7 linked regions of the Homo sapiens genome follow. The protein of the gene in region 1 purifies or fractionates together with the protein of each later gene. This does not show direct contact. Each region holds a gene or a part of one and is shown in the gene's direction. Other genes may lie near its edges. The genes, in order: ETFRF1, RCC1L, ECH1, CCZ1B, SPATA20, KLHL22 and NADK2.

Region 1 (3,500 bases):
GGCAGGTGAGGTCACAATGAGAATCTACACTATTGTACTTCGGGGTTCAACCCAAACAGAAGTTAACAGGAGAACTTAAATTATGTAGCGCATGATTTTTAATTGAGTATGGTACTGTAATTTTAATCCACATTTTCTGCTAGTTAACTATAAAATAACCCTTAAAACTGATCTAAAAGCCTATTTTAAAAATATAAGTTGCGGCCGGGCACGGTGGCTCACGCCTGTAATCCCAGCACTTTGGGAGGCCAAGGTGGGTGGATCACAAGGTGAGGAGATCAAGACCATCCCGGCCAACATGGTGAAACCCCGTCTCTACTGAAATACAAAAAAAAAAAAAAAAAAAATTAGCCAGGCGTGGTGGCGCGCACACGTAGTCCCAGCTTACTGGGGAGACTGAGGCAGGGGAATTGCTTGAACCAGGGAGGTGGAGGTTGCAGTGAGCTGAGATGGCACCACTGCACTCCAGCTTGGGGACAGAGCAAGAATCCATCTCAAAAAAAAAAAAGTTGCTTCCTGCTTGCCTATCAGAGTAATTCAGTCCAAAAGTCATTACGTGGGGCTGAGCAAGGCAGGCATCTGGGGAAGGTGGGGGCGAGAGAAAGGCTGGCAAGGTAGTAGCCCAGCAGGGGATACTGGAGCCCAAATGCAGTGAGGAGGGCCTCTGGGGGTAGGGACTTGTGCACAGCAGCAGCCTAGCAGGGGATGAGGAGGGCATCCTATTAGGGTGAAGGAAATGGTGGCACAGGTTTTTGGAATGGGAACAAAAGGTGAGCCTTACCCAGGAGGGAGGAAATGGTGCAGTGTAAGTTGCTTGAGCCCAAGAAGGGTAGGTTGGGGGAAAGGGGGAAGAGAAGACCATGCATGTGGGATGGTGGCAGTGGCACTCTGGCATTAGGTGGCAGAGCTCAGAGAGTAGAGTGTGTGCGCCGAATGGTGACAGCAAGAGGATTTTGATTACATAGTGAGAGAAGGGGTGATGATTATAAAAAGTAAATTTATTAAGGACAAGTGGGAACCAGACTTCTCACTGTTCAGCAAGAGTATTAAACCCATGTAAAGAGGGGAAATGAAAATAAACCCTGTAGTATTGGAATTGAATGTTAGGTAGCAGATTATATGGAGATTAATATAAAAGTCATACACACATACAACACCTAAATCCGTATGTATATACACTTGCAGCTTTGTCACTTAGAGGACCTGGGAACAGTGACAGTCCCATGGTGATTAGCATTTTTAGCACCCAGACCTTGGTTTCTAAAGCATTCCATCCAGATTATAGTTTCTAAATGCTATTCTCCATTAAAAGGACTAGGTTCCTTGGAGAAATAATTTTACAATGGACAATCTTAGCAAATACATTAATTGGGTAATCAAAGTTATCAATCACAATGGAACAAATTGCAGTTGCATCCACCTGATAGGATGCAATGTTAAGAGCTTACTATTCAACTCTAACAGGTAGTGGGAATTATTTTCTAGGTTTAGACTGTCATGATGCCTTTAAGTTTGGAGCCTCCTCTACAAAGTAGAGTTAACACATTACACATAAAGAAGCATGATTTTGCCTGTTCCTCAGGGACACCCTCTTACAGGTTGTTCATTTGGCCTCTTCACCACCAATCTTACTGCCCATCTACTATTCCAACCTGCTTAACTCACCCAGTTTCTGCTAGTTTTCAGCCTCCCTTTGGATAAGCACCCATCAGCATTTGATCAGGCTTCTGCTCAATGTCCTTCAAGTGGCTCTGGCCTTGCCTTGAGAGCAGGGTAAAGATAATCTCTTGTTTGTTGATAAGGAAAACTCAGGCTCAGCAAGGTTAATTAATCTGTACATTATGCAACTGGAATTTAAATCTAGTTTAACTCATTCCACTGTGGCATAAAAGGAGGTACACGTACCTATCTGTGATGACAATCCACTTTCTCATTTCCTTCATGTGACTTCTCACAATCACAATTGTCTTTGCTTATGTCTCCCATAGGAAAACGTCAATTATGACAGCAGGTAATTTTATCGGAAGTGTTTATAACTATATCCCAGTACGTGGAACGAAAAAGTTATCAAGAAATATTTATTGAATGTAAAAAAGGTTACCATTTTCTCAATGTGTATAACCTTTTTTTATTTTTTTAAGACTACAATGCAGCTAATTGCAAAAAAATTTTCCTTTCTTTAGGTATGTTATGCATAAAAGTGGATAATTTACATGATAAATGAAAATGGCCAATTCTTTAAGAGGAGAAGTACTAAAACTTTATAAAAATGTAAGTAATTATGTTGCCAATTTTATAAAAATGTTATTATATGACATGGATTGTTTAGAAATATATAATCTTTCTTTTTGAAGCTGCTGTATCTTGGACGAGACTATCCAAAAGGAGCAGACTATTTTAAAAAGCGTTTGAAGAACATTTTCCTTAAAAACAAAGATGTGAAGAATCCAGAGAAGATCAAAGAACTTATTGCACAGGGCGAATTTGTAATGAAAGAGCTAGAAGCTTTGTACTTCCTTAGGAAATACAGAGCTATGAAACAACGCTATTATTCAGATACCAACAAAACTAATTGATCATTACTACTTTAATTTAGCTATCAGTGCCAGCTGTTTATGTATACCAGATGTTGTAAAATAATTCTAACTTAAAATGGGAAGATATACATGTTGTGTAAAAAATCCCTGAGCTGCCCTACTGAACTAAATAGGTTTCAACTTCTGTTCATACGGAGAAAGTATCAGCAACTTTATGCTCAATTTTGATACAAACATAGCAATTTAGCTATACTACCGATCATAAATTAATGAGCACCCAATTTTGAATGAAAATATAATACACTTAATCCTCTAACTTAATAGGACTTAGCCAATTATTTTTAGCTTATTTCTCCATTTTACTGACAAGAGAATGCCATTTACCGAACATTTAATAAGCAAAATAATTTCTTACACACTTACTTCTCTTAACTTTTGAAAGGAATCCCTTATTTTTTCACCCAATTTGGTATATTAACAGCACATACTCAAGGTTCACTACAAAACAAACAGTTCCTGGTAATGATTTAAATGTAGTTATAGAAATAAATAATATGTATGGAGTCATTACTTCTGACCTTGAAATAGCCTGCTGGTGACTGGCATTAACATACATAACTAACTATTCAATTATTTCCATTATTAATGTTGCTGCTGCTACCTTTGGGCCTAAAACCAAGTCACCTGTTGTGTATCAATTACCTTCTTTGATAAAAGGAAATAAATAAATAATGTTATCCTATTTTTTTGTCATAAAGGCAGATTTGTTTTGCATCTACTTCTAAATATGGTTTTAAGTTTAAGCAAACACGCCTTTACATAATATCCACAGCACCTTTTAGAAATAAAGGATACTTCTAACAAGCTGCATAAAAGATTCACTGGTATACTATAGTGTCTATGGCTTATAAAGTATTCCATATCCATTTCGGGGCAAACAGTTCAAATTTCATGAATAAATAC
Region 2 (3,500 bases), on another chromosome or scaffold:
GATTACAGGCGTCCGCCACCGCACTTGGCTAATTTTTTGTATTTTTAGTAGAGATGGGGTTTCTTCATGTTGGCCAGGCTGGTTTCAAACTCCTGACCTCAAGTGATCCGCCCACCTCGGCCTCTAAAAGTGCTGGAATTACAGGCGTGACCCACCGCGCCCGGTGAGTTCTTTTCATTTTAGTGTTTAAAAACACTTCCCTCTAGTTCCTTGTATGTTGTTGGAGGGCCTTAACACCACTCTCAACTTTGGCCATGTGTTAAAATCACCTAGGATTTTGTTTGGCTTTACTTTCATGACCAGGCCTGACTCGACCTAAGATTTGACCTTGAGAGTTACCCCAACAGTTACTGTGTGAGCGGAGGGGACGGGCCATCAGTTGGGGTGACAGGGAAAGGGCTGCACAGTGCTTGTCATGACCGCATCCCTTGCTTCTTCCCAATTTGTTCCTGGCTGTAGTGAAAGTCACAGAGTCCACAGGATGCAGGACTTCGATGGCCAGGTGGTCCAGGTAAGAGAGATGGGCCGAGAGCTGCTTGTTGTGTTCCTGGGGTGCTTTTGAAAAGTTGAGATTTGGGTAGGGTGATGGCAAATTTGTTAGGGGGATTTTCTGAATTAAATTATTTTAGTAAAAATTGTAGCCTACTTACTATAGGCCAGGATTTATGCTAGATTCTAGGGATACAAAGTTTAATAAGATTTTGGGGCCGGGTGTGGTGGCTATACCTGTAATGCCAGCACTTTGGGAGGCCGAGACAGGTGGATCACCTGAAGTCAGGAGTTCCAGACCACCCTGGCCAACATGGTGAAACCCCGTCTTTACTAAAAATACAAAAATTAGCCGGGTGTGGTGGCACATGCCTGTAATCCCAGCTACTCAGGAGGCTGAGGCACAGGAATTGCTTGAACCTGGGAGGTGGAGGCTGCAATGAGCTGAGAGATTGCACCACTGCACTCCAGCCTGGATGACAGAGCAAGACTCTGTCTCAAAAAAAAACAGATTTTTGGGGATGACACTCTAGTGAGTGAACAAGTTAAAAAGCTAACTGAGGCCGGATGTGGTGGCTCACACCTGTAACGTCAGCCTCTGGGGAGGCTGAGGCAAAAGTATCACAGCACTTGCTGTATTCATGCATATGTGCATTGAAATATTTATGATAGGTACCTACCATGAGCCAGGCACTATTCTGGGGATGAGAATAAAATGGAGAGCAAAATACAGCTGGCTTAGAACACCACAGCACTAATCATACTGTGATACGGCTGGCTTTTTGGTTTTATTTGGAAATTTTTTAGAGGCAGGGTCTCATTCTGTTGCCTAGGCTGGAATGCAGTGGCACGATCATAGCTCACTGCAGCCTTGAACTCTTGGGCTCAAGTGATCTTGCCTCAGCCCCCTGTGTAGCTGGGTCTACAGGTGTGCATCACCATCCTCGGCTAATTATTTTAAAGAGACAGATTCTCACTGTGCTGGCCAGGCTGGTCTCAAACTCTTGGCCTCAAGCCATCCTCCCGCCTTGGCTGCCCAAACTGTTGGGATTATGGGTTAAGCCACCATGTCAGGCCTCCTTCACCTATTAGACTGAGTGACTTTGTGCAAGTTACCAGACATCTCCAAGATAGTTTCTTTTTCTTTTTTTTTATTTTAGTGCAGTGGCACAATCTCAGCTCAGAGCAACCTCTGCCTCCTGGGTTCAAGCGATTCTCGTGCCTCAGACTCCCGAGTTGCTGGGATTACAGGCATGTGCCACCATACCTGGCTAATTTTTGTATTTTTAGTAGAGATGGGGTTTCACCATGTTGGCCAGGCTGGTCTTGAACTCCTGACCTCAAGTGATCCACCTGCCTTGGCCTCTCAACGTGTTGGGATTACAGGAGTGAGTCACTGTGCCCAGCTGAGATTCAGTTTCTTACTAGGTGGTTTTGGTTATTGACTTAACACAATGCCTGGTGTAAAAATTGTTCAATAGATGGTGCTTTTCTTTAGGCAGTTAGAAAAATGAGTTTGGAACTGAGGAGAGTTGTTGAGACCAGAGATCACAGTGCAGAGGCCACAGTTAAGCATTGAGAATGGCTCCCATCTCCCAGGGTAGCATGAGGAGTGAGGAGAGAGGAGGGCAGGAGACACACCCTGGAGAGAGATCCCAACAGCAAAGGGTCTGAAGTAGAGGCTGAGTGTGTGAGCAAGGCTGGAAGCTGTGAAAGTAGAAGAGAGGGCTGGGAGGAGAAGGGTTATGGAGAAGGGGTGGTTCTTTGGAGATGGCGTGGGATGGATGGCAGAGCTCTTGGATTTGCCCCTTTGGAGATCTGCATTTTACTTTAACAAGAGCAGTTTCAATGCAGTGGGAGACTGGTAGATTGAGAAGGAGTAAGATGAGCATGGAGCAGTCTGCCTGGACCATGCTCCAGGTGCCCAGGAGCGGCAGGCGATGGTGCTGGTCCTTCTTTGGATGAGGACACCAGGGTTCTAAGTATTTCCTCTCATCCCCCTTACCTCTGTTTGTCTGCTAGGTCGCCTGTGGTCAGGATCATAGTCTGTTCCTGACGGATAAAGGAGAAGTCTATTCTTGTGGATGGGGTGCTGATGGGCAAACAGGTAGAGTTCTTTTCATGCACTGGGGTCGTGAAACTTCTCAGCCCGTGTCATGTGGAGCTGTGAGCTGTAGGGCATTTATGGGCTAGAACCCTTCTTCCTTAATTCAGCTCTTACCTCTTATCACTTTCTGAGGAACACTATTCTTGGCTCCATCGCCCAAGCTGGAGTGCAGTGGCGCGATCACATCTCACTGCAGTCTCAAACTCCCAGGCTCAGGTGATCCTCCCACCACAGTCTCCAGAGTAGCTGGGACAACAGGTGTGAGCCACCAAGCCCAGCTAATTTTTTGTAACAACAGGGTTTCGCCATGTTGCCCAGGCTGGTCTTGAACTCCTGACCTTAAGCAGTCTGCCTGCTGTGGCCTCTTGGTGGGCTGGGATTCCAGGCAGGAGCCACTGTGCCCTGCTGTAATACTTTTTTTTTGCATCCCTTCCATTCCCCTCAGCCCTGGCTCCCATAGAAATGAACTGAGAGAAGGCTGGGTGCAGTGGCTCACACCTGTAATCCCAGCACTTTGGGAGGCCGAGGTGGGCGGATCACTTGAGGTCAGGAGTTTGAGACCAGCTTGGCCACCATGGCGAAACCCCATCTCTACTAAAAATACAAAAATTAGCTGGGTGTGGTGGCACACGGCTGTAATCCCAGCTACTAGGAAGGCTGAGGCAGGAGAATGGCTTGAACCCGGGAGGCGGAGGTTGCTGTGAGCCAAGATCGCGCCATTGCACTCCAGCCTGGACAACAGAGCAAGACTCTGTCTCAAAAACAAACAAACACAAACTGCAGAGAAAAGGACAGGCAGGACCTGCCCAAAGGCAAATGTCATTATTGGCACTTGGTATGGGGGTAACCCCTGGCCAGCAGCCCAAGGCAGAGCACTGAACTGTAGACTCTTGCCTTCATCCAG
Region 3 (3,500 bases), on another chromosome or scaffold:
GTCAACAGATGTTTACGACTCCAGTCCCCATGATCTAAGTCAAGGTCCCAGTGGGGATCCATACTGGGGATGGCTTGCTGACCGATAGGGAATTTGTCCCTTTCTTCAGGTGTCATTCTATCATTTACTTGATTAAGATTCCAGGTATCTCCAAACTCTCAGGCTGCAGCTAAAGCTGCATTCTTTTCATTAAAGGCCAGGGTTTGATCTAACAGTAGCATGACATCTCTCCAAGCGAGGTCGAAAGTTTGCCCTAGACCCTGTAGGGCATGTATGTACCTATCAGGATCATCTGAAAACTTCCCCAGGTCTGCCTTGATCTGCTTTAAATCAGAGATGGAGAAGGGGACATGTACCCGGGTGGGACCAAATTCCCCTCCCCCTACAGCTTGAAGGGGACATAACCAATAGCCAGGAGGGTTTTGTGGTCCTTTGGAGATTTCTTTGCATATTTCCTTCTGGGCAGGGGAGATTAGAGGAAGATTATCATTAATAGGAATGGGAGCTATAGGGAGGCTAGGATATGGTGGTAAGCTGAGAGGTCCTCCTGTGGGATGTAAATTGTAAGCTTTGCATAGTTGTGTATTCTCCCTCCATGAAAAGAAAGCTTGGACATAAGGTATTTCACTCCATTTGCCTTCCCTCTTACAGAAAAGGTCAAGCTGCAGGATAGTATTGTAATTTGTACTTCCCTCAGGTGGCCATTTTTCCCCATCAGAGAGAGAATACTGGGGCCAGGCCATAGTGCAGAAAAAAAATGAGCCTCCTCTTTTTCAGGGTTTATGGGTCAAATTGGTCCCAACGGCTTAGGATGCATTTCAAGGGTGAGCCTGTTGATGGCTGAATGTTTCCCATCTGAAAGACAAAACCACCCGCGGTTTTGGTTTGTTTTGTTTCTCCCCCTGCCCAAGAAACTGCAACAGTCCCTGTACCCTGCTGATCGGAATAGTTGTGCTCATCAACGCAGCAGCAGAAACACTAGTTTTCCTCTCAGACCACATGGAGGACCAAGGAAGGTCGGATTTAGTGGCCCTTACCGACGCATTCTTGAAAACCTGTTAGAGTTCTAAGCATTCTCCTGTTAGTATTGGGACTTTACCCCTGTCCTATAAAGATGTTATGCCCCAAAAATGAAGTGGAGGGCCATACCCTGAGGGAGGGAAGGGATCTCCAGGGTTGGAAGAGTGACACCTTTTGTCCTCACTTATATGAATAGGAAAGCTACAATTTCTGAGGCTCCCCATATCCTAGCTTCAGGAATACCTTTGTTAGGCCTGTTAGTCTGAGGAGGGATCGTAAAATTCCAGGTAGTCGCCACTATGACAGGGCTTTGGGCAAAAATTATGTCTTTCTGATTGGTGAGCCTGGGTGCCTAAAGAATGTAACAGAGTTCTAGAAGTCGTTCTTATAGGAGAAACTAGAAAAGCACCAGAGACAGCAAATTTTAGAAGCAGGACTAAACTCGGAGAAGAGAGGTGAGAGGAAGTTTGTCTGGCAGGCATTAGGACCCGGGGGCAAGAGTCAGGATAGATAGGATAGATGGGCGAGTCTCGCTTGGGCGACATGCCTTTGAGTGTTCCGCTCATGGCTGCAGGGTCAACGAACTTGTTGTCTTGTCGGGACCCTAGAGCTGCATGGCTTTCCTCTCTGTCGACCCTCGGCTCAGCCCAGAAGTACAGGAAAAGCAGAAGCTGGTTCTAGGCAAACCAACGCTCCCAACTCCAAAGAGTCGGGAGTTGTTAGAGAGCCCTTTCCCAGAAAGCCTGACACCCATGTCTTTAGTCCAGCGGCCATGCTAGTCACTTTTAACTGGCAGACAGGTGCCTGGTATTTAGCCCCCAAATTCTAAGGAAAAATAGGACAGAATAGCAAGTGAAAGGGGTCCAGTGGTACTCACTGCTTGGCGATAGGTGATAGTCTCACCGCTCAGCGATAGGCAGTGGTCTCACCGCTTGGCGATAGGTAATAGTCCCATCTGGGTCACCAAAATGTATCCGGAATTGGTGGGTTCTTGGTCTCACTGACTTCAAGAATGAAGCCGCAGAATCTCGTGGTGAGTGTTACAGTTCTTAAAGGCGGCATGTCCGCAGTTTGTTCCTTCTGATGTGTTCGGAGTTTGTTCCTTCTGATGTTTGGGTGTGTTCAGAGTTTCTTCCTTCTGGTGGGTTCGTGGTCTCGCTGGCTTCAGGAATGAAGCTGCAGACCTTCGCAGTGAGTGTTATAGCTCTTAAGGCGGTGCGTCCAGAGTGGTTCGTTCCTCCCGTCCGGAGTTGTTCATTCCTCCCAGTGGGTTCGTGGTCTTGCTGGCCTCTGGAGAGAAGTTGCAGACCTTCGCGGTGAGTGTTATGGCTCATAAAGGCAGTGTGGACCCAAAGAGTGAGCAGCAGCAAGATTTATTGCAAAGAGCAAAAGAACAGAGCTTCCATAGCATGGAAGGGGACGTGAGTGGGTTGCCACTGCTGGCTCGGACAGCCTGCTTTTATTCCCTTATCTGTCCCCACCCACATCCTGCTGGTTGGTCCGTTTTACAGAGAGCTGATTGGTCTGTTTTACAGAGAGCTGATTGGTCCATTTTGACAGGGTGCTGACTGGTGCGTTTACAATCCCTGAGCTAGACACAAAACTTCTCCAAGTCCCCACTAGATTAGCTAGACACAGAGCACTGATTGGTGCATTTACAAACCTTGAGCTAGACACAGGGTGCTGATTGGTGTATTTACAAACCTTGAGCTAGACACACAGTGCTGATTGGTGTATTTACAATCCCTTAGCTAGACATAAAGATTCTCCAAGTCCCCACCAGATTAGCTAGATACAGAGTGCTGATTGGTGCATTTACAAACCTTGAGCTAGACATAGGGTGCTGATTGGTGCATTTACAAACCTTGAGCTAGACACAGAGTGCTGATTGGTTGTTTACAATCCCTTAGCTAGACATAAAGAGTCTCCAAGTCCCCACCAGATTAGCTAGATACAGAGTGCTGATTGGTGCATTTACAAACCTTGAGCTAGACACAGGGTGCTGATTGGTGCATTTACAAACCTTGAGCTAGACACAGAGTGCTGATTGGTTGTTTACAATCCCTTAGCTAGACATAAAGTTTCTCCAAGTCCCCACCAGATGAGCTAGACACAGAGCATTGATTGGTGCATTTACAAACCTTGAGCTAGACACAGGGTGCTGATTGGTGCATTTACAAACCTTGAGCTAGAAACAGAGTGCTGATTGGTGTATTTACAATCCCTTAGCTAGACATAAACGTTCTCCAAGTCCCCACCAGATTAGCTAGATACAGAGTGCTGATTGGTGCATTTACAGTCCCTCAGCTAGACATAAATGTTCTCCAAATCCCCACTAGACTCAGGAGCTCAGCTGGCTTCACCCAGTGGATCCTGCACCAGGGCCGCAGGCGGAGCACTCCTCAGCCCTTGGGCAGTTGATGGGACCAGGCGCCGCCGAGCAGGGGGTGGCGCTCCTCGGGGAGGCTCGGGCTGTGCAG
Region 4 (3,500 bases), on another chromosome or scaffold:
ACTTACCCCTATCTCTAGGCTCCAGGGTTGTTTAAAGAGAAGTCTATAAATGACTGCAAAGTGACTCTGTATTTGTCTTAGAGAAGAAAATAATGAGGCCTTTGAAACAGGTAGTGAGGTTTATGCCTACATTTATTCAGTAAGTATTGAACTCCCTTCTCTTTTCTCAGCCTTATAGTAGGAATGTGTCCCCATTGATGAAAAAGTGTATCTATGTGCTCAAGGAACATACAGAATGCAGATAATTTTATGATTTAAAAGTTTCAGTGAGGCAGGGCACAGTGGATCACACCTGTAATTTCAGCATTCTGGGAGGCTAAGGTGGGAGGATTGCTTGAGCCCAGGAATTCAGGACCAGTCTGGGCAATATAGCAAGACCCCATCTCTACAAAAAAATTTTATAAAAGTTAGCCAGGTATCATGGTGCATGCCTGTAGTCCCAGCTACCTGGGAGGCTGAGGTGGGAGGATCGCTCGCACCTTGGAGGTCGAGGCTGCAGTGAACTGTGATTGCACCACTGCACTCTACCCTGGGCAACAGCGAGATTCCATCTCAAAAAAAAAAAAAAAGGATAAAAAGTTTGGTGATTCCATTTATTAACAGAACACTGAAAAATAAAAAAACAGAAATGTGGGTGATATTATGTATGTAAATTGAAACTTAAGGGTAAGTTGAAATTTTTGAAAGATGCCTAGAGCAATTAGGTGGTTTCATAAAACAGCATCACTTAACAGTATTTTTTGTAACTTACATTTTTAACTCAAGTTTTCTCACGTAAATATTCTCTGTTGGAAAGAACTGGGAGATTTAATGAGCTGAATTAATAATCTAAAGGAAAAAAAGAACTTGTTATACTGAAAAAGTGAGCATAGGAAACTGATTTTTTTTTCTGCAATCTTTTACCTCACTAGCTTTTTAATGGTACATTTCTGAAAGCCATGGAAGACGGAGGCGTCAAGCTTCTGAAAGAAAGATTAGAGAAATTCTTCCATCGGGTAAGTATTTTGAATTTCATTTATAACTTTACTAAGCATTCATCAGGTTTTTAGAGAAATATAGACAGACAAGTTTGTTTCTTATCTACAAAAAACCCAGAACTTGAAAGTGGCAAAGAGCCTGAGACAGACCGTCGCAAAACTGGAGCAGCGAGGAAACGCATGAGGCGTGTGCTCTGGAACCTTCCCTCCAGCTGTGGTGTAAGGCAGAGCTTCCTGCGTTTGCCCGGGGCTCTTAAAGGGTCCTGGAGACATCGTTTGGCCTCCCTGTGTTTTACCTGCATCTGTCCTTCTGGGCTTACTCAGCAGCCATCTTTTGTGTGATAGATTAGTTGATAAGGAAAACTTAATTATTGGAGTTGCACAATCTCAGGGATTGGTTCTGTTCACTAAACGGGCGTAAACTGTCTTGATGTAGGTAAGAGTTATTGGCCTTGACAGACTTTGTCAGATTAGCGATTGGGGAGATTTGTTCCAAGTGCTGTCCTCTTTCGTTGTAATTGAATTTTGCATGTTTCACCCTACCTTGTCAAGCTCAGTTTATCTTTTTTTTTAAAAGGAAACAAAGAGACAGGGTCTTGTCTTGGCTGTTTTGCCCAGGCTGGTTTCAAGCGATCTTCCCTCCTTGGCCTCCCAAAGTGCTGGGGTTAAAGGCGTGAGCCAACTCGCCTAGCCTAGTTTATCTTGAAGCAACAATTCTCAATTTATTTTCTTCTGAAAATACCTTCTGTATCTATTTTTGAATTCGACTTTCTAAAACAGCTTTCATAGCTATTTTTGAATTTTTTTGTTTCTCTGAATTACTTTTCTTTGTTGTTTTGTCATTTTAATGACCACAATTATCCACTCGCATATTATCTCCTGGTTTCTGTTCTTGTCCTCATTTCTCTCTTACCCGTCAACATATGGATAGAACTGTTGTCCTGAGTACATATCATTTAGACATGATTTTAGTATAAGATGGCACTCTTGGCTGGGTGTGGTGGCTTACGCCTGTAATCCCAGCACTTTGGGAGGCCGAGGCGGGCAGATCTTGAGGTCATGAGTTCGAGACCAGCCTGGCCAACATGGTGAAACCTCGTCTCTACTAAAAAATACCAAAAAACTAGCTGGGCGTGGTGGCGCACGCCTGTAATCCCAGCTATTCTGGAGGCTGAGGCAGGAGAATCGCTTGAACCCCAGAGGCAGAGGTTGCAGTGAGCCGAGATCGCACCGCTGCACTCCAGCCTGGGTGACAGACCAAGACTCCATCTCGGGGGGGAAATAAAGATGGCACTCTCTGTAGTATTAATGGATAGATCCCTCATTAGGTTAGTCTAATTTGAAGAGCATTAAGGCAGGGAGTTAATTTTTTTTTTTTTTTTTGAGACAGAGTCTTACTCTTGTCACCCAGGCTAGAGTGCAATGGTGTGATCTTGGCTCACTGCAACCTTAGTCTCCCAAGTTCAAGTGATTCTCCTGTCTCAGCCTCCTGAATAGTTGGGATTACAGGCTACCACGCCCGGCTAATGTTGTAATTTTATTAGAGACGGGGTTTTGCCATGTTGGCGAGGCTGGTCTCAAACTCCTGACCTCAAGTGATGTGCCCGCCTTGGCCTCCCAAAGGGCTGGGATTACAGGCGCGAGCCGCTGTGCCTGGCCAGGAATTAAATACTTGAAAGTGCTAGCTGGGCACAGTGGCTCATGCCTGTATTCCCAGCGCTTTGGGATGCCTAGACACGAGAATCACGGAGGCCAGAAGTTCAAGACCAGCCTAGGCAACATAGCAAGACTCTGTCTATACCAAAAAAAAAAAAAAATTTTTGGCCAGGCGTGGTGGCTCACACCTCTAATCCCAGCACTTTGGGAGGCTGAGGCAGGCAGATCACGAGTCAGGAGATTGAGACCATCCTGGCTAACATGGTGAAACCCTGTCTCTACTAAAAATGGAAAAAAATAGCTGGGCATGGTGGCAGGCGCCTGTAGTCCCAGCTGCTCAGGAGGCTGAGGCAGGAGAATGGTGTGAACCTGGAAGGCGGAGCTTGCAGTAAGCTGAGATCGCACCACTGCACTCCAGCCTGGATGACAGAGCAAGACTCTGTCACAAAAAAATAAATTTAAAGCAGTAAAACACAATACTGAATAAACATTAAGTAGATAGTTTGAACTTTGTATCTTGGAATTGGTACTGAGTTGACACTCAGTCACCCATGTCTTCACCACGGCCTCATTGTTGTGCTGTTTGCTAGTATGTAATTGTACCATAAATGTGAGTCTGACATAAGATTATTTTCAGTTATCAAGGAGCATTATATTCAGTGTACTATTAGTAAATTTTATGCCTTATTTTTTTTCCACAGTATTTGCAAACGCTACATTTGCAGTCATGTGACCTACTTGACATTTTTGGTGGAATCAGCTTCTTCCCGTTGGATAAAATGACTTATTTGAAAATCCAGTCCTTTATTAATAGAATGGAGGAAAGCCTGAATATAGTCAAATACACTGCTTTTCTCTATAACGATC
Region 5 (3,090 bases), on another chromosome or scaffold:
GTGCTTAATAAATGTTAACTGAGTGAATGAAAGGGCCTTGGGAGAGAACCACAGAGGAGGACCAACTCAGCCTAGGGAGAGATTAGAGGACACCTGTGACAGGTGTCATTTAACCAAGGCCTGGAGGGAAAGAGGGGCCATGTGGCCATGGAGAAGCTGTGGAGAGAGTTCAGGCATAGGGAGCAGTGCATGACAGGCCTGGTGCAGGCAGCCTGTATCCTGGAGGACAGGCAGGGCCCGCGTGTTCCAGGAGGGCACCGAGGAGAATGCTGAGGCCGGCAGGGCACGGAAGCCGTCTTTTTTTTTTTTTTTTCCTAAGAAAAGAAGGCTGGTCTCAAACTCCTGGGCTCAGGTGATCCTCCCGCCTCGGCTTCCCAGGTGCTGGGACTACAGGTGTGAGCCACCATGCCCGGCTGGCAAGGAGGTTTTAAGTGGATTGTGATCTGCTCTGGTATGGTTTTAAGGAGGTCACTCTGACCACTGATGGAGAGAAGTGGGGGTGGGGGAAACAGGCGACCAGTTAGGAGGCCATTACTCGTGTTCAGTCCAGGCAGGCATTGGTGAAGGCTCAGAGGATGTGGAAGTATGAGATGGGGAGACATGGTGAGATTTGGATCTCTTCTGGCCACAGCCCTGGCAAGACTCACAGATGGATTAGAAGCGGAGGGAGAGGGAGAGGAAGGGGACAGGATGATGCCGCTCTAGCTTGAGCAGCTGAGTGGCTGGACAGAGGCATCAGCAGCGAGGAGGGAGCCTGGAGACCAACAGTTGAGGCTAGGACAGGTAGAGTGGAGGGTGCCATAAAAAAGACAGCAAAGTACTGATAACTGCTGGAGTGGCATCCACACCCAGAGCGGGGAAGGGGCAGGATGGGCAGGGCCTTTTCTCTGTCCCGTCCCCCAAGTGGCCCTGGATACAGTCCTGGGCAGGGTCCTGGGACTCAGTGACCTGCCCTTACCCCCACCCCCTGCCTCCCTATGTGCTGTAGACCAGGATGGAGCAGAGCCCAGCGCCAATTCCGTGTCAGCCCACAACCTGCTCCGGCTGCATGGCTTCACGGGCCACAAGGACTGGATGGACAAGTGTGTGTGCCTATTGACCGCCTTTTCCGAGCGCATGCGTCGTGTCCCGGTGGCGTTGCCCGAGATGGTCCGCGCCCTCTCAGCCCAGCAGCAGACCCTCAAGCAGGTGGGGGGTGAGGGCATCTGGGCTGGGACCTCGGGTAGGAGGGAAGTTGGGGCTGCGATGGCAGATGGGAACAGGGGGTGGGGTTCCTGGGCTGTCCCCAGAGCTCAGGTCTGTGTGTGTGCAGGCACGTGGCCTGTCAGACAGGGAGGCAGAAGTTAATATGAGTCCGTGGTGGCTGATGAAGTGTTTCTCTGTACGTCTTGGTGTCAGTGTAATTGCTTCTGTCCATACTGTGTTACTGGTGTGTGTGTACTTCCGGGTGTGTGTGACCCTGGAGGTGTGTGTCTGTGCACCTACCTTTGAGGGGGATGCTGGTGTGAGTGTTTGTCTGTCTGCATGTGGATGCCCCATCTGCAGGTTTGCCTCTGTGTCTGCCTGCATGCGTGTGTGTCTGGTGTTTGTGTGTGTGGTATCTGCCTCTGTGTGGGCATCTACTGTGTGTGTGTGTGTGTGTGTGTGTGTGTGTGTGTGTGTGTGTGACTACTCTGTGTCTGTCTGAATGGGTCTCTGTGTGCTCTGGGTCTTCTGGGTGTGTGTCTCCCCATGTTTGTATCTGTACCATTGTGTATATGTATGACATTTCCACTTCGGTATTCTCATGTGTGAGTGTGTGTGTGTGTTCCCACTTGCCAAGCATTAACTCATCCTGGCAGCTGAGATGAGTCCCTGTTCCTTCTTAGAGATATACGGTGGGGCGGAAGGAGGATGGGGAAGCCCTGGTGGTCTAGGGCTCAGCCCTCCCTCCCCTGACACACCGGAGTGACCTTTCTATTCCGGTCAGATCGTGATCTGTGGAGACCGTCAGGCCAAGGACACCAAGGCCCTGGTGCAGTGCGTCCACTCTGTCTACATTCCTAACAAGGTACCCATCCCTGTGAGCCCAATCTGCCACCTCCCCAGAGCTGCCCCCTCCCATCCTCAGCTCCTCAACATCTCCTTCCCCTCAGAATGTTGGGAAGAGGGAACTTCCCAGTGGGCCTTTCTAATGGGCAGGTGACCCCACCCCGGCAGGTGACTCTCCCTGCTCTGCTGCTGCCCTAGGTGCTGATTCTGGCTGATGGGGACCCCTCGAGCTTCCTGTCCCGCCAGCTGCCTTTCCTGAGTACCCTCCGACGGTTGGAAGACCAGGCCACTGCATATGTGTGTGAGAATCAAGCCTGCTCAGTGCCCATCACTGATCCCTGCGAATTACGAAAACTACTACATCCATGACTGCCCCAACCCCCTTGGGGTGGGGCAGAAGGTGAAGCATCCCAACTGACTAGAGACTCAGGCCCTGCAGGGCCCTATAGAACCTGTGGCCATCCCTGAGCACCCTGCCACCAGGTGACCTCGGCCATACTCACTGCCCCCCTTGGGCACCCACTCACCCTAGAATAAACTTAACAGTGTCCCGTGGTAACCTGAGGGCCTCAGCTTTGCTTATGAGGGAGGGACTGGGAACCAGCAGCTCAGGGCCACTTCCTCTGGCAGCCCCCACCTGACCCCTCTGCCTTCTCCCATTTCTCCTTCATCTTCCAGGGGTCAGCAGACTGCCCCTTTCCCTTCCATGGTCATTGTAGCCTGAATGAATTTAGTCCCCTGAACTGAGGTCAGGGGACTAAAACCAAGTAAAGATGCCCAGGGGTGGGCATGGGGGTGTGGACTGGCCCAGGAGGGAGAAAGCACAATCCTTGCCCTCAGAAAGAGGTTAAGAAGGGAACCTGCCCTCCCCTCCCCATTGTCTCCTTGTGTTGAGCTGGAAAGGGGGCAGAGATGCTTTATATGAGCTTTTATATTTCACAGAATGGTGACTTTGCATATGCCCTGGTGCATTGTGGGAGCTGCTATTGTCACGACTAAGACATTTCTTTTGGGGTATCCATCTAGCCCCAGCCTCGAAAGGATGGAAGCAGGGCCTCC
Region 6 (3,500 bases), on another chromosome or scaffold:
ACATGGTGAAACCCCATTTCTGCTAAAAATGCAAGAAAATTAGCTGGGTGTGGTGGTGCACGCCTGTAATCCCAGCTACTGGGGAGGCTGAGGCAGGAGAATCACTTGAACCTGAGAGGCAGAGGTTGCAGTGAGCCAAGATCACACCACTGCACTCTAGCCTGGGTGACAGAGCGAGACTCCGTCTAAAAAAAAAAAAAAGGGCAGGTTTGAATGGTGGGGCATATTTGTCATGTTCTCTGTACAATGATAGAGGGAGAAGTAATCGAGCTAGACCTTGACCAATATGGGACTATGAGAGACAGAATGGCCTAGATGGGTGACTAAAGGTGTTCAGGGGATGACAGGTATCCCTTTTGGACTAAGGACTGCTGATGGGGCTGAGTAGGTAAGGCTTGAAGGAGAGCAGCCTGGGGAGGATGAGACAAGAGGTAGGGAAACTGGTAGGGGCATCACTGCTGTGGTCTGACCCAGAGTGGTGGCCCTGGAGGAGTGGAGGGTGGCTGTCTGAGATGGAGGAGAGGTGAAGGAATCAGAACTAGTAGGTTCATAGGGCACATGGGTTAGAAAGGAAAAATATTAAAACAGTGAGGTTTCCAAGATGGAAATGGTAGCTTTGATAGTAAAATTAGACAAGTTGGAGGGCTACTAGCTAGATTAGGCACTGAGCTGTAGGTGAAACTGGGAATGTGAACCACTGGGAAAGAAGGATGGGCTCGAGCAGGGTGTGTGGGATGAAAGAGAGAGGTCAGAAAAGGGAGAATTATCATAGAGCAGAGTTTCCAGGCAAGAGAATCCTAAGTGAGAGGTGGTCATGGGGTATACACCTTGGCTGTGGCCATCTCTGGGGCCTTGGTGAGAAAGATGAGCCAGCCCAGGAGGGGGAAAGGAATGGGTGGGTGGCTGGATAGAGGTCCCAGGTCCTGGAGGCAGACTCAGGGGCAGGCACAGATAACTGAGTGTGTTTGATGGGAAGCAGTAGAGCATCCAGGGGATGGGGTTGGGGGTGGCCCTGAGCCTCAGTAGTGAAGAGAGAGACCTCTTCTTTTTGGCAAGTTTTATATCAGCATATATTTTTCATTTTTTCTTTTAAAGATATATAATCATGTGCCACACAGTGATGTTTCCGTCAATGACAGACCAGACCACATGAAGGATGGTGGTCCCATATTTTTACTGTACCTTGTCTGTGTTTAGATACACAAATTCCATTGTGTTACAGTTGCCTATAGTATTCAGTACTGTGATATTGTGAAATATATATTTGGTCTTGTCTCATTTCTTGGCATACAACTTCTAAAATCTTTGGACTTTCCAGAGTGATGCCTTTTTGTATGCTGGCCAGCAGCCCCTAGGTAGCTTCAGGATGGGGGCTGGTGACAGGAAAGGCCAAGGCAGGCATAAGAGGGTTGGGACTTTCAGCCTCACCTCTCAACCTCCGGAGAGGGGAGACAGGCTGAAGATTAAGTTCATCACCAATGGCCAGTGATTTAATCAGTCATGCCTACATAATGAAGCTTCCATAAAAATTCTGAATGACTGGGTTTGGAAAACTTCTGGATAGTTGAACACATGGAGGCTCCTAAAGAGTGATGTTCCTGGAGAGGGCCTGGAAGCTCTGCACCACTTCCCACATGTCTGGCCCCATGCATCTCTTCATCTGTATCCTTTGCAATACCCTTTATAACAAACCAGTAGACATGAGTATTTTCCTGAGTTCTGTGAGTCGCTCTAACAAATTAGTTGAACCCAAGAAGGGGATCTTGGGAACCCAATTTATAGCCTATTGGTCAGAAGCACAGGTGAAACAACCTGGGAGACTCAGCCCTCAACCTGTGGGATCAGACACTGTCTCCAGGTAGTGTTAGAGTTGAATTAGAGCAGGGGTCCGCAACCCCCAGGCCTCAGACCTGTATCAGTCTGTGGCTGGTTAGGAACCAGGTGGCACAACAGGAGGTGAGTGGAGGGTGATCCAGCATTACCACCTGAGCTCCACCTCCTGTCAGATCAGAGGTGGCATCAGATTCTCATAGGAGCACAAACCCTGTTGTGAACCATGCATGTGAGGGGTCCAGATTGTGTGCTCCGAAAGAGAATCTAGCTAATGCCTGATAATCTGAGGTGGAACAGTTTGATCCCGAAACCATTCCCCGACCCCGTGGAAAAATTGTCTTCCAAGAAAGTGGTCCCTAGTGCCAAAAAGATTGGGGACTGCTGAATTAGAAGACACCCAGCTGGTATCTGTGGCAGAATTGATTGCTTGCTTGTTAATGGGGAAAAACCCTCACACATTTGGTCACAGAAGTCTCCTGTGTTTGTTGTTGTGGTATAAGAGGAGAGGAAAAACAGTGTGTTTTTTTCATTCAGAACTACAGTAACATGCTGTACAAGTATGTAGCTTAGGAGCAATTGGCTGTACCTTATGGCCTAGATGTGTAGTAGTCTCTACCACCTAGGTTTGTGTAGGTGTACCCTTTGATGTTCACACACTGAGGAAATTGCCTCCAGCGATATAAGTCTCAGAATGTATCCCCAACATTAAGTGATGCATGACTGGAGGTAATTGGAGAATAAACATATTTTGGGGAGAGGAAAGTAGGATGAAGTGAGGTGGAGAAGACAGATGTTCACATCTTGTAGCTGACTGTGCTGTGCCTACAGAGCCTGCAGCTTGGCCATGCCTCACAGTGTGGGACTGGCCACTCCCTGACCTGAACAGCTGGCTATCCACAGTCACTTTTGGTTGCTCCATGGCAAAAGTGCATTTGCAGTAGGTTCATTTTACTGATTAGGTTTTAGAGGCTCCAATTCAAATCAGTTTGCGGTTTTTGAACGTACTGACTCAATTATTAGAAGATAATCTTTAATTTAAAAGGCAATGCAGATGAATTTAAATGCATCAGGTTCAATCACAGTTACTGTGCTTGACTCTCAGAATTTCAGTAAAGGAAAGTAGGCCCTGGAAATGCCACCCCCTTGGCACCCACCTCCCAGACTCCTGGCTGTGTGTCTCCTGACCACTACTCAGGTCTTGCCATTTTTATGCATCCATTACTATGAGGAAGAACCCAATTTTGTTCATTCAATGGGAGGGAGGAAGAGCTCTTGAGAACCTGGTGTGTGCTTATGCTTCATGTTCATTGTTTTACCAATTTTAGAATACCCCAATGGGGTAGGTACTTTTATCTCTCTTTTTAAAATTGGGGAGCTCGAGGCTCAGTTTGGTCATGTTGTAAGTCCCTGTGGAGTTGGGCTCCAACCCAGGTCAGTCTGTTTCCCAAAACCCTTCTGTTTGACTTTGCCGCTGAAGAAGATACAATGAGATGAAGAGTCTTGGGCATGATGGCACACAGGTCATCAGGAAGAAGGCCATCAGGAAGTTGGACTAGAGGTGGGAGGGGAGAAGGAATTAGGGGATTTGGAAATAGAGGGAAAACAGGTGAGCCTGAGGGAGGCACAGGAGCAAGGGGAGCAACAGAGCTGGCCAGTCTGTGTGTGGT
Region 7 (3,500 bases), on another chromosome or scaffold:
GAGAAGAATTAACAGGTTTTTGGGGAAAATATTAAAGACTGTTACTAATAATGTTGTGTAACATTGCAGAGAATTGGGAATGTGTTCTAAATTTCAGTAATTTCTCTAACCTTTTAATGGTAAGACATTGTCTAAGAAATCATGTGTTCTTATTTTTGTCTGATTAAAGGAGTGTTTTAAGATATTTGAAGTCATGTTATTTTCAAAGGTTTAGCAAGAAATTCTTACCAGCTTTTGCATATGCCTTTTAAACAAATATAATTATTGGACTTCAGTACTCACTGGCTGTGGCGATTGAATGTAAGGGAAGAATTAAAGCCAGTTGAATAGTGATTTAAGCCTTTCTAATTGATGCTGTTTATTAAGTGATTTTCTTATTTTTTATCTGTCTCATTTAGCCAGTTCATGTTAATAAAGCTTAATAGCCCAACCAGCGAGGCCTTTAAAGAAAATAAGAACTTACATTCTCTAAATGAATGTTGAGGATGACTTATTAGAAAGTTAGTTCACAAGAAGAAATTTGAGTGGGAATAAGAATTTATGAACTGACATTTCTGCTTCAATGTTAAGTATTCTGATGCTGCCTGAACTTTGTATTTAGATTTGGAATTTTAGGAATTTTATTATTGTTAGCAATCATAGAAAACTTGAAGTTTTTTGTTAGTTCTCCAAAACTTTTTCTCCCACAAATTCAGACCCTTTCGCCATCTCAAGCCAAAGTTCCCTAACAGTCAACGCCATGTATCTTATTTTCCTGGGGCTTGCCGAGAGCCAGGAAGTAAGCATAAAAGTTTCTGAACTACCAGACTAGCATTTACAGGGCTTACACAGTAAGGTTTATGTGCTTTTTTCCTGGGTACATGTTCCATATTGTCCAAACCAAAATTTGGAACATAAGGTAAAAATCCTGGATAGGGAATTGAAGTATGAGGGCCAGCTACCCTTGAAGTTTTATTTAAAGTAGAAGTGGTAAATTAGATATAACTGTTGTAATAGGCTTATTGTGCATTTGAATTAGTTATCATTGTCTTTGGCAGTTTGCAGTGCCTTGTTTAATACATTTGATTAAGTTCAACTAGTAGTTAAATGAACACAGTAGTAGGCAGTCAAATATTTAGATGAATTTTTTTTAGAGCTTAACTTCTAGCTGTGTAAAGTGTTCACGCCTAAAGTGGAATTGTAAGAGATAATTATAACAAAATAATATACTATAGTAACTAATCTAACTCTCCTCAGTTCTAAGGGTTGGTTTGCACACTGTTGTCACTTTCTGGGTTATCTTCTGTAGCATCTGCTTCTGCACTATTCTTGCTTTTCTGGAAAATGTATGCATGAGTTCATTCAACAAATACTTAGCTAGTACTTAGGCCCTGAGGAACAATGGCAAACAAGATAAGTAAGATCACTGTTCTCCCAGCACTTATATTCTAGTAAGGAGATTCAAAGGGATTTTTTAAAAATACCAGGAAATTTTAGGTGTGGTAAATGCAAAAAAGGGAATTAACAGGTGTTGGGATGGAGTAATTGGCAGTGGTGGCTGTTGCAGCTGCAAGGGCAGCACTAGCAGCAGCTGTTTCAGCAGTCCTGGCACCCCAGGGTTAAAAAGAGTCAGAGTTAGGTGGAGGGATGGAAAGCATTCCAGCAAGTACAAAGGAAGAGCTTGGTGAAAATAGACCAAAGAGATTAGAGTGTTGGGAATGGGGAGGAAAAATGAGGTAGGAGAAAGGAGCAGAAGTCAGGTGGCATAAGCCTGAGAGTTGGTAGGAAGAAAGTGCCATTTGTAGAAGGGCATTAAGCTGAGGAAGAGACATGCTGTGGTCTCTCTGGTTTCTGTGTTCGGAATAATCTATAGGGTGCCAAGAGTGGAAGTAGGGAACCCCTGTCAGAGGCTTGTGCAGTGGTTCACGTGTGAGATCATGAGTGGTAGAGGGGAAGAAGAGAAAAGTGCTTGGATCAAATATAAGATTTAGTAATTGGATGTGGAAATAAGCAAAAAAGGAGGCATCGGCTGTGACTCTAGACTGTTGGCTTAAGCCATAGGTGGGGAATTCTTGGGCCAGAAAATCAAGGGCTAGATATTGAACATGCTAGATACTGAATGAATAATAATAGCATTTCAAGTATTCAGTATCTAGCATGTTCAATATCTAGCCCTCTAAATTTGAGGTGCCTGTTAGATAGCCAAAGAAAGATGTCAAATAAGCAGTTGAATAAATGTATTTGAGGCTCTAAAGATAGGCCGGGTTGGGAGATAGCAGTTGGGAATCATCAGCATCAGCATATAGATCTCTTTTAAAGCCGTGAAACTAGAGATTGCCAAGGGAGAGGGTAGTGGTCCATACTCACTGAGAGGTGGTTAGTGCCGTTTTAGTCAATCTGTAGCTGGGTAATGATAGTGGTAATCTGAATATTCATGCTCTGTTGGTCCATATTAAGAAATTCTACTCTAAAATAGTTTTTCAAACCTTACTGACTCATGTTGATTTGTTGATTAAATTAAATGAAGGATTTTTCTAGTTATTATCATAGTCAGTGCTTTCCTTTAAAAAATTATTGACATTGGTTGCTTAGTCTAAGTTTAATGAGGCTTTTGGCTAGGCATTAAATTTTGGCACAGGCTGTCTAATCTATTATAGTATATCTTGGTAAGTTAACATCTATTAATTAATTTTCACAATAGCCAAATGCTTCCTCAGCTTCTCTTTTGTGAGAACATAACGAAAATTACAAAGCAAGGACAAAACTATTTAAAAACTCTTAACCCAGTATTCGTAGGCAAAAGATGGGGAAGGTAGGTATCAAAATATTAACACTAATGATTTTGAGCCATAAGATTATATTTGATTTCAATTTTCTTTAAATATGCATTTTCCATATTGTTAGTGTTTTCTTTATAACCTTTAAAAAGTAAAATATGTATTAAAATGCTGTCTAAAAATTAGTTTTACTTTATAGTTCAGTAAGTAATGATTTAAAACAAAATATTTGAGATTGTATATTAGGCTGGGTGTGATGGCTCACACCTGTAACCCCAGCTTTTTTGGAAGCAAGGTGTGTGGATTGCTTAAGCCCAGGAGTTCGAGACTAGCCTGGGCAACATGGTAAAACCCCATTTCTACCAAAAAAAAAAATAAAATAAATTAGCTGGTTGTGGTGGTGTGCACTTGTAGTCCCAGCTGCCTGGGAGGCTGAGGTGGGAGGGCGGCTTGAGTCCGGGAGGCAGAGGTTGCAGTAAGCTGAGATCACACTACCACACCCCGGCCTGGGCAACAGAGCCAGACCCCGTCTCAAAAAAAAAAAAAATCATGTCTAGACAGGTATTTGAAAGACTGATTTTGTTACATAAAGAGGAAAGGTATAAGCTGGGCACAGTGACACGTGCCTATAATCTCATCTACTTGGTAAACGGAGGCAGGAGAATCATTAGAGCCTAGGAGTCCAAGACCAGCCTGAGCAACATAGCAAGACAGCATCTCAAGAACAAAAAAAAGAAAAGAAAA

Evidence for each region.
Region 2: the proteins of ETFRF1 (region 1) and RCC1L purify together in Homo sapiens (affinity purification with mass spectrometry; one large-scale study listed by BioGRID and IntAct). This does not show direct contact.
Region 3: the proteins of ETFRF1 (region 1) and ECH1 purify together in Homo sapiens (affinity purification with mass spectrometry, with the first as the bait; one large-scale study listed by BioGRID). This does not show direct contact.
Region 4: the proteins of ETFRF1 (region 1) and CCZ1B purify together in Homo sapiens (co-immunoprecipitation; 2 studies listed by IntAct). This does not show direct contact.
Region 5: the proteins of ETFRF1 (region 1) and SPATA20 purify together in Homo sapiens (affinity purification with mass spectrometry; 2 studies listed by BioGRID and IntAct, with this or other methods). This does not show direct contact.
Region 6: the proteins of ETFRF1 (region 1) and KLHL22 purify together in Homo sapiens (affinity purification with mass spectrometry; 2 studies listed by BioGRID and IntAct, with this or other methods). This does not show direct contact.
Region 7: the proteins of ETFRF1 (region 1) and NADK2 purify together in Homo sapiens (affinity purification with mass spectrometry; 2 studies listed by BioGRID and IntAct, with this or other methods). This does not show direct contact.

What each region holds. Positions count from the first base shown.
Region 1 is NC_000012.12:25,201,737-25,205,236, forward strand, and holds the end of ETFRF1 (electron transfer flavoprotein regulatory factor 1), read left to right. Parts: exon of another isoform or gene 1-2,096; intron 2,097-2,183; 5' UTR 2,184-2,220; coding exon 2,221-2,271; intron 2,272-2,354; coding exon 2,355-2,576; 3' UTR 2,577-3,407; downstream 3,408-3,500. UniProt on the Homo sapiens protein: Acts as a regulator of the electron transfer flavoprotein by promoting the removal of flavin from the ETF holoenzyme (composed of ETFA and ETFB).
Region 2 is NC_000007.14:75,060,303-75,063,802, reverse strand, and holds part of RCC1L (RCC1-like G exchanging factor-like protein), read left to right. Parts: intron 1-459; coding exon 460-511; intron 512-2,511; coding exon 2,512-2,596; intron 2,597-3,500. UniProt on the Homo sapiens protein: Guanine nucleotide exchange factor (GEF) for mitochondrial dynamin-related GTPase OPA1. Activates OPA1, by exchanging bound GDP for free GTP, and drives OPA1 and MFN1-dependent mitochondrial fusion. Plays an essential role in mitochondrial ribosome biogenesis.
Region 3 is NC_000019.10:38,821,795-38,825,294, reverse strand, and holds part of ECH1 (delta(3,5)-Delta(2,4)-dienoyl-CoA isomerase, mitochondrial precursor), read left to right. Parts: intron 1-1,897; exon of another isoform or gene 1,898-2,455; intron 2,456-3,500. UniProt on the Homo sapiens protein: Isomerization of 3-trans,5-cis-dienoyl-CoA to 2-trans,4-trans-dienoyl-CoA.
Region 4 is NC_000007.14:6,819,776-6,823,275, reverse strand, and holds part of CCZ1B (vacuolar fusion protein CCZ1 homolog B), read left to right. Parts: intron 1-911; coding exon 912-995; intron 996-3,334; coding exon 3,335-3,500.
Region 5 is NC_000017.11:50,553,263-50,556,352, forward strand, and holds the end of SPATA20 (spermatogenesis-associated protein 20 isoform 1 precursor), read left to right. Parts: intron 1-988; coding exon 989-1,188; intron 1,189-1,969; coding exon 1,970-2,050; intron 2,051-2,229; coding exon 2,230-2,400; 3' UTR 2,401-2,590; downstream 2,591-3,090. UniProt on the Homo sapiens protein: May play a role in fertility regulation.
Region 6 is NC_000022.11:20,489,296-20,492,795, reverse strand, and holds part of KLHL22 (kelch-like protein 22), read left to right. Parts: exon of another isoform or gene 1-2,965; coding exon of another isoform or gene 2,966-3,028; intron 3,029-3,500. UniProt on the Homo sapiens protein: Substrate-specific adapter of a BCR (BTB-CUL3-RBX1) E3 ubiquitin ligase complex required for chromosome alignment and localization of PLK1 at kinetochores.
Region 7 is NC_000005.10:36,228,426-36,231,925, reverse strand, and holds part of NADK2 (NAD kinase 2, mitochondrial), read left to right. Parts: intron 1-3,500. UniProt on the Homo sapiens protein: Mitochondrial NAD(+) kinase that phosphorylates NAD(+) to yield NADP(+). Can use both ATP or inorganic polyphosphate as the phosphoryl donor.